Linked DNA regions of Homo sapiens: region 2 is linked to region 1. Evidence: fine-mapped expression QTL. A gene starts in region 1. The other region holds a variant in brackets. All regions are shown on one strand. Distances are from middle to middle. Region 1 holds the start of ZFHX3 (zinc finger homeobox 3). Region 2 has its middle 11 kb from the start of HCCAT5.

Evidence for each region. PIP is the estimated chance that this variant, and not a neighbour inherited with it, causes the effect.
Region 2: its variant is the best candidate, but not a certain one, in a credible set for the expression of ZFHX3 in whole blood (INTERVAL, PIP 0.89).

What each region holds. Positions count from the first base shown.
Region 1 is chr16:73,045,889-73,050,277 of GRCh38, forward strand. It overlaps ZFHX3 (zinc finger homeobox 3), which reads right to left and starts at 2,240. Exons shown (of 10, transcript NM_006885.4): 1 at 1,864-2,240. It overlaps LOC124903719 (a long non-coding RNA gene), which reads left to right and starts at 1,690. Exons shown (of 2, transcript XR_007065116.1): 1 at 1,690-1,912; 2 at 4,238-4,389. RefSeq lists enhancers at 1,534-2,069, 2,606-3,141 and a silencer at 1,831-2,680.
Region 2 is chr16:73,079,296-73,083,684 of GRCh38, forward strand. It overlaps a transcript of ZFHX3 not described here. Among named protein-coding and RNA genes, the nearest start is that of HCCAT5, 11 kb to the right of the region's middle. The variant A/G (reference allele first, on the strand shown) is at 2,462.

The DNA of each region.
Region 1 (4,389 bases):
AAGGGCTGTTTTTAAAGTCTAAAAGTGCTCGCTTCTGCATCTGCTCCATGTTGTTAAATAACACTTGTGTAATTAAATAAAAGAGCCAACTGTGACCCCAGCCCACTCTGAGAGGCACTTTACATGCTTTCTGAAAACTATGCTGGAAACACCATGAGGAGAACTCCTTAGTCCTGTAATTTAGCAAAGGGAGAGAGAAAAAGTTTCTTTTGGCCATCATAGCTACACACTCTCTGAAAGGGTGCCTGCAGGGTCTCTGCAAAACAGAATGAACACAAATACAGGCGTGCAAACATCCAGGTATGTACCTCTCTGTGAAGACCCCATTCTTGAAACCCTTCAATTATTTGGAACCGTGGTCTCCTGACTTCCCTCACACCTCACTTTTGCCTTCATTGTTTTTCATGTTTGAGTAGCAAGAGGGATTCAGAATCTCAGGCTGCCAGTGGCTGTTCTGATAACAAGGAGCAGACTCATGTTTCTTGCTACGGCCTTTCTTGATCAGGTTACCTTGGAAGGTGTATGTTTTCCTACCCAATGCAGTCCCCACCACAGCACTCTCGTGTCCTCCTCCAGCCCAGCCTCCTGGAACTCGTGATTTTCAGGGTTTCCCTTGAAACCTATCCAGAAACCACAGCCATTAACTGAACGTGAAGATTTGACACCTCCTGAATTCAGGAATGAGGGAACTCGAGGGGCCAACTCTACAAACTCGCACCTGCTGCTTGACGGCAAGGAAACAGAGTTTCCCCAGCTAGGGTGAGCTTTAAATTATACACTATTTATTTAGTGACTTGTCTCCAAGGATCTCAAAGCATAGAGAGAAATAAGATGATGTGTAACTTTCTCACAATCTACCTTCAAGGCTTTGCCCTGGTGCATTCTGACAAGCAGGACCCAGTATGAAGGAGAGGCCTTCCTTCTGTGCCCAGGCAGAGCCATCTGTTCTCTCTGGGGTTTTCTGTCAGTGGCTTTAGGGAGTCTTCAAGGACTGTTAAATGACACAGAGGGTGGGGGGAGGGATGACCCTCCTGGATTCACCTGCTCACGGCTTTCACTTAAGCCAGTTTAACACAGGAGGTACCACTGTGCCACGCAATTCCCTCTTAGCACACACCATGCGTGAGCTGCAGTCTTTGCCCTCCAGGCCTTTTCCTATCATAACACAGGTGTGTCCAAGGCAGAAAAGAACATTTTCCAGAAGGTTCGTTTCCCTCCAAGCCTACAATGCTTCTTTTTGTTGTTATTGTTTTTCTGCTACTGACCTAAACATAGGCATTCCTCCTCCTAACAGGATAAAAATCTTGACTCTCTCCTTTGCATCAGCTCCCCACCCCGCCCCTGCCCAAGGAAATAAATGCTCTGACTTTTCCAAGAGTGCGAAAAAACTAAAATTAGAGGGTGGACAAGATGATCTCCAAAGGTGCCCTCCAGCTCCAAAACTCTGATTCTCCCTTTAATTACTCCACAAGCGCATTCTTCACATTGTTTCGAACTGACCAGCGACTTCTCCAGGGCTGAAAAGGGTGCATTTTTAGGCGGAGGCACCCAAACTTCTAAATGACACCAGTACCACAAGTATTCAGAAGGCAGGAACTAATCCAAAAGCAGACTCAGGAAAGGAGGAGGGAGGGGAGGACAGAGGGAAGGGAAGGAAGGAGGAAGGAAGAGCTTTACTGTGTGCCCAGCAGAATTTAGGCGCTCTCACCCTAGGTAGGTGGCAACTGGAGTCTGGGAGTTCAAGTGCATCCAGCCTGCCCTTCCCCCACACGCCCCAAGAGAATGGGAAGTTCAGCCAAGACTCGCAGCACCTGCCCGCGGCTCCAGGCCGGCTGCGCGGACCCGGAGGGAGGCTGCACTCACCTGGCACACCAAGCCTCCGCGCACCTCCGGAGGGAGGCGGCACTTGCAGGTCCGGGGGCCGCGCCGCCATGCGCAACAACGGGAAATTCCAGTGGCACCCGAGCCCCGAGCTCACCCACCCCAGGCGGCATGCTCCCCACCTCCCGCTGGCCCCAGGACTCGGAGGTGGCTCTGGTCAGGAGCAGGGGGCCCGGAGACAGGGGAGGGGAGCTCATGGTGGCGGCAGGGCTGGCGGTCGGCCCGTCCCCGGAGGGAGGTCCCCGGGACGCGGCGGGGATTCACCCACGGGGCGCGGCGCTGGCGTCCGGGTCCCCGGCCTGCCCGCCGCCGCCGCCTCCTCCTCTGCCGCCGCCCGCCCGGAATCGCTTTATGTAAATGAAGCCCAACTCGCAGTTTGCAGCGCGCACCGCCCGGGGAAGGGGGGCGGGCGGGGCGGGGGGCCTTCGGGGATCCACATTACACAGCAACAAAGCGGAAGGTTAATTTGAAACTCACAGCCCCGCTGCCGCTCGGCTCCCCGGGCAAAGCCTGACATCTACAGTCGTGCCGGGCGCAGGCCGGGTTGCTCGGCGGCGACCGCGCCCGCCCGCCCGCAGGGACCCGGGGACGCACAGGGACGCGCGGGACCCGGGCGCTCAGCTGCGCTCGCTCCGCTTGGGGCGCGGGCCTTGGGGCAGGCCGGGGGTCCCGCGCACCCGCCTGGGGCCAGGAACCCTCGCCGCTCGGCCTGCGCCGCCCCGGGAACCGGCCCCGGCGGGAACAAAGCCCAGGCCCTCCCGGAGGCGCTGACCCCTCGCTCATCAAAGGTCAGGGGCCGGCCTAGAATCGGGCGAGAAGAAAGGGACGCGCCCTCGGCCACTAAAAGGAGCCTGAGGCCTCCGAACCGGAGCCATCGCTCCCTGGGCCCCGTCCACGTCACAGCCAGGCCACTCAAGCATGGGGACAGGAGCCAATGTGGACAGGAATTTATTGGAAACACACACCCATCCTATTAACTGCTTTACAGAGCACTTCTGTTTTTCAGTTGCAGAAACTTATAAAAACATCCCCCTGCTCTCCGTTGAGAGTTTAAGGATAGTTTTTGAGGCCAGAGAAAGAGAAAAGGAGAGATCACTAGAAAGATAGGAAGAAAAGAAGTGGGAAGAAAAGGAGATGCAGTCTACCATGTAAGCCTCCAGGCTCCTTAGCCTCACCTTATAAAGCCACATCACCGCAGAGATAGCAAAGATCGTGCCCTTTCCCAGGGAGTTCCTACCGCCAGGGTAAGATTTAAAGCGGCCACCCCAGTTGGTCAAAGTGATTGCTGGGCGCCTTTCTATCTCCCCAAGTTCACCTTTTCCAGTTGGTCAAAGCGATTGCTGGGCGCCTTCTATCTCCCCAAGTCCACCTTTTTCCATTCTCATCTGAAAGCCAGCCCCAAAGAAATCTCACCGGAAGTCCTCTGTCCTCCCTGTCAGAATCCCACCCTCAGTCTGAATTTACTCCCGATTCTCACAGCACAGAAAGGCACCTGCTTTTACCCTTTCTGAAAACCACCCACCCAGGCTGGCCTTACAGCCTGGAGAGTCTTTTCCTCGGGCACAATAATGAACCATGCAAGTGTTAGAAATATAATCAGCTCATGAGGCGAAGAGCAGTATGTATGGAATTGTATTAGCATGAGGCACACACTGACTCGGGAGAAAAAGGGATGCTTAGCTGGTGAAAACCATCACATCCCCGTATAGAAGGCTTTTTGCACAATGTAAGTTGGGTTCAGATTAATGTAAGTATCTAACCTGTTGGGTACAGACAGCCCCTTTCTACATTTTAGTCCAGAATAGATTCTGGGGAAATTTATTTATTTATTTATTTATTTCAGCTAAGGCCCTGGGAGAAAAGACTGCCTCCAGGGAATCATGTCCGATTAGGGACAAAGGAGGGCACAAGCCCAATTCAGTCACACGTGAGAGCACGGGGGCCGGGTGGGGGGAGTTAAGAGCCAACAGGGAAGGTGGAGGATGAGTTTGCAAACCAGACTATGGTCACTGCAGAGCTGCTTCCAGACCACCTGACTTCAGGCCCAAGAACAGGTGGTGTTTTCAAAACACACTGTTATTTATATTGGCCATATAAGTTGAGAACACCTTAAAGAAAACAATTAATAATTTAATTGAAAAAGTGACTATGAATAAGACATGAAGATGACGTATGCTAGCAGGACCGCAAGCAACGTGGCCCACAACGCAGAGATGCCTCTGGCAATCTCTCCGGAAAAACGAAGATTCCTTACCTGGGATAGGTAAGGCCTGCTGGATAAATTAAAGACAACAAGAAAATGTTGATACTCTCAGAAAATCTAATTTTGCTGCTTTATCTTCATTTTTATTAACAGGGGACAACCTCGTAATCTGGTGACATCATGATCCTGGTAGGCCCACAGACAAATACCTTCAATAAAATAAAAGCTAGAAAGCCCAAAGAACAAGCTATTAAAGTAACCTGGGAGGATGCAGCACTGCCTGGGCAGAAGGCCCGGACGGGATC
Region 2 (4,389 bases), 33 kb after region 1:
GGGCAGATCACTTGAGGTCAGGAGTTCAAGACCAGCCTGGCCAACATGGTCAAACCCTGTCTCTACAAAAAATACAAACATTAGATAGGAATGGTGGCACATGCCTGTAATCCCAGCTATCTGGGAGGCTGAGTCAGGAGAATCACTTGAACCCAGGAGGCAGAGGTTGGGACAGGGCGAGACTCTGTCTCCAAAAAAAACCAATTATTTTTAATTTTTTAAAAATAGAGATGGGATCTCACTATGTGGCCCAGGCTGTTCTTCAACTCCTGGCCTCAAGTGATCCTCCCACCCTGGCCTCCCAAAGTGTTGGGGTTACAAGCGTGAGCTGCCACACCTGGCCTCCTATCTTTACTCCCTTTCTACTTGGAAACCTACACATGCTGTATTCTCTCCAATCAAACAAGAACAAGAACAGTAACACTTGCCTTGGTTCTACTGCCTTTTTGATGTGCCATCCTTCCATTCATTACCCAATTTCCTGAAGAATCATTTAAATGTGTTCTCTGGCCCTTGCTTGAGCACCTCTGGCACTGTGGACAGCTGGCTCTGATTGTTAGAGAAGATGGTCATTATTTTGAGCCTTTTAAATAGATCCCTTGTGGTTCTTGCCTACTGGTCTTAGTGTCACCTTGTGAGGTCACACAGAGCAAGTTTAATTCCCTGATGCAGACAACCTTTTCCTGTCCTGGCCTCCTCTCTCAGTCTGATCTTTCTGAGCTAGGAACTGCCAGTTTCTTCAACTCTTTTTCACAGGCTCTGCCTCTGAGTCCCCTTTGCCTTCCTGTTTCCAGTTTGACTCTCTTCTTAAAATGTCATGGCCCAATATTAAATGTGAATTATCCACATCTGCTCTGTCTCCCACAGTACAGCAGGATTCTCACCTCTTTGTTCTCCTCATTACACTTTTGCCCAGTACAATTGTGAAAGCCTCCACCCATTAACTGAAACCTCTAAGACAGCGGTTCAGAAAGTGTGGCTCATGGAGCTCCTACTTCAGAATGACCCAGAGAGCTTCATGTTATGGACTGAAAGTTTGTGTCCTCCCAAAAGAGGGTGGAACTGAATGTGTAGGTATTTTGATCACAGCCTCCAGAACTGTGAGAAATAAATGTCTGTTGATTGGGCCACCTAGTCTATGATATTTTGTGATAGCAGTCTGAGCTATCTAAGACACTTTAATAAATGGAGATTCTTGGTCCACACCTCAAACTTGAATCTGACAATCTGGGGTAGCACCTGGGAATCCACATTTTAAACATTTATGCCAGGTGACTTTTTCTTTGTTTTTTTTTTGAGATGGGATCTTGCTGTGTTGCCTAGGCTGGAGTACAGTAGTATGATCAGAGCTCACTGCAGCCTCAAACTCCTGGGCTCAAATGATCCTTCCACGTCAGCCTCCCCAGTAGCTGGGATTATCGGCATACACCACCATGCCTGGCTAATTTTTAAAAACATTATTTTGTAGGGACAGGGTCTTGCTATGTTGACCAGGCTCTGGTCTCGAACTCCTGGCCTCAAGCAATCCTCCCGCCTTGGCCTCCCAAAGTGCTGGGATTTCTGGTGTGAGCCACTGTGCTCAGCCAGGTGATTCTTAAATGTGCCCAAAAGTCTGAAAAGAAAAAAGCTTCAGGTCTTTTCTAATACTTCTTACCAAGCCTGGCTCCCTCCACCCGAGTTTGTGCAGATGGGTTTTCAGGTCCAAGGTCAAGACCTGCCATTTTCTTGTGTTACATTTCACCTTGCTAGATTTGGTGCATTGCCTTGGTCTATCAAAAATCTTTTGAATTCTTTATCTTGCAACATATGATGTCATGATAATCACACATGGACTACCAAAACCTCACTGTCCCAGCACCAGAAATCTCCTCCACATTGATACCAATCACTAACTAATTTGTACTTCATCTTTCATCTTCTTTTCCATGAGATAAATGAGCAAATTGTCTTTCTTTCTTTCTTTTTTTTTTTTTTGAGACAGAGTTTTGCTCTTGTTGCCTAGGCTGGAGTGCAATGGCACAATCTCTGCTCTCTGCTCACCACAATCTTCGCCTCCCAGGTTCAAGCAATTCTCTTGCCTCAGCCTCCTGAGTAGCTGGAATTACAGGCATGCGCCACCATGCCCGGCTAATTTTGTATTTTTAGTAGAGACGGGGTTTCTCCATGTTGGTCAGGCTGGTCTCGAACTCCTGAACTCAGGTGATCTGCCCATCTCGACCTCCCAAAGTGCTGGGATTACAGGCATGAGCCACTGTGCCCGGCCCAAATTGTCTTTAACCATATTATCAAATGCCTCACTAAAGCCCAGCTCTTCTTTGTATTCTCTATTTCCCTGTTCCACTGGTAGATGCCAATTCTGTCAAAAAAGAAAATAAAGTGTTCTCACAGGCCATTTACACATGCATTCTAGAATCTGTGGTCAGGCAATGGACTCTAGTGTGCAGAACTCACCCTTTTTTCC[A/G]GTGACGTTGTTCTGGATGTTTATGGCACTTATGTCATAGGACCCTTGACTTGTAATTATAAATGTTCTTGTCCACATCTTTTTTTTTTTTTTTTTTTGAGACGGAGTCTCACTCCATCACCCAAGCTGGAGTGCGGTGGCACGATCTTGGCTCACTGCAACCTCTGCCTCCCAGGTTCAAGGGATCCTCCTGCCTCAGCCTCCTGGGTAGCTGAGACTACAGGTGTGTACCACCACACCCAGCTAATTTTTATATTTTTACTAGAGACGGGGTTTCACCATGTTGGCCGGGCTGTTCTTGAATTCCTGACCTCAGGTGATCCACCCGCCTCAGTCTCTCAAAGTGCTGGGATTACAGGTGTGAGCCACCGCATCCAGCCCTCGTCTACATCTTGATTCAACTACGAGATAAGGAGCTCCTGAACTCTGAGCTTTTATCTTAGGTGCCTCAAAATATCTCATGGTAACTAGCACAAGATCCTACTTGGTAACCTTTCTTTGAATGAATGAATTTTTTTTTCTCTTTTTTGAGAGGGAGTCTCTCTATGTTGCCCAGCCTGGAGTGCAGTGGCGCGATCTTGGCTCACTGCAAGCTCCGCCTCCTGGGTTCACGCCATTCTTCTGCCTCAGCCTCCCGAATAGCTGGGACTACAGGCGCCCGCTACCACGCCCGGCTAATTTTTTTTGTATTTTTAGTAGAGATGGGGTTTCACCGTGTTAGCCAGGATGGTCTCGATCTCCTGACCTCAGGATCCGCCTGCCTTGGCCTCCCAGAGTGCTGGGATTACAGACGTGAGCCACCGTGCCCAGCCAAATGAATGAATTTTACATTTTATTCCCATTAACTTACTTTCTTTTTTTTTGTATAAGATGAAAGCAGATCCTGGAGTGAATACTGGAAGACTAAGCTCCCTAGGCACGAGGGAAGTGGTGTGCCTGGGCAGATCTCAGCAGTCCCAATTGTTTCTCTTAGTCACTGCTCATAAAAATCAGCTCCTTAGAATAAAAGCAGTCTTTGAAATGCAGTGTGATGAAATCACAGAAAGGATGACACAGTTTCTGAAACATCACAACATTACTGGAATCTGTAGTAATGGCCAAAGAGACACAGGAAACAGTATTTAAAACAAAACAAAACAAAACCTGGCCAGGCGCAGTGGCTCATGCCTGTAATCTTAGCACTTTGGGAGGCCGAGGTGGACGGATTACTTGAGGTCAGGAGTTCAAGACCAGCCTGGCCAACATGGTGAAACTCCATCTCTACTAAAAAAAAAAAAAAAAAAAAAAAATACAAAAATTAGCTGGGCTTGGTGGCGGGTGCCTGTAATCCCAGCTACTTGGGAGGCTAAGGCAGGAGGATCACTTGAACCCAGGAGGTAGAGGTTGCAGTGAGCCAAGACCATGCCATTGCACTCCAGCCTGGGCAACAAGAGCAAAACTCCGTCTCAAAAAAGCGAAACAAAAAAACCCCAACACCTTACCTTAGTAGAGCCATCTAAGTCAGCATAACATGCAGATAAAACCTGAGTTATGAGCTTACTGCTAATGAGACCTCTTGTGATGGCACAAAGTGTGTCGGTAGGATGTGACATGGCTGGACAGGGACATCTGGCTTTTCTCTCCATTATGGTTCCCTTCTGTATCACAACTGGTAACACATCTGAATAATTATCTGATATATAAAACACAAAGGGTGAAAAGCTGTAAATGAATGGTGGAAAGTCTTGTGGTTTTCATGGTCAAGTGACTTTCTTTGTAGTCATGCCTTTCCTATTTCTTTTTTTATTTTTTGAGACAGGGTCTCACTTTGTTGCCCAGGATAGAGTACAGTGGTGCAATCTTGGCTCACTGCAGCCTCGACCTCTCGGGCTCAAGCCATCCTCTCACCTCAGCCTTCTGAGTACCTGGGACTACAGGTGCGCACCATC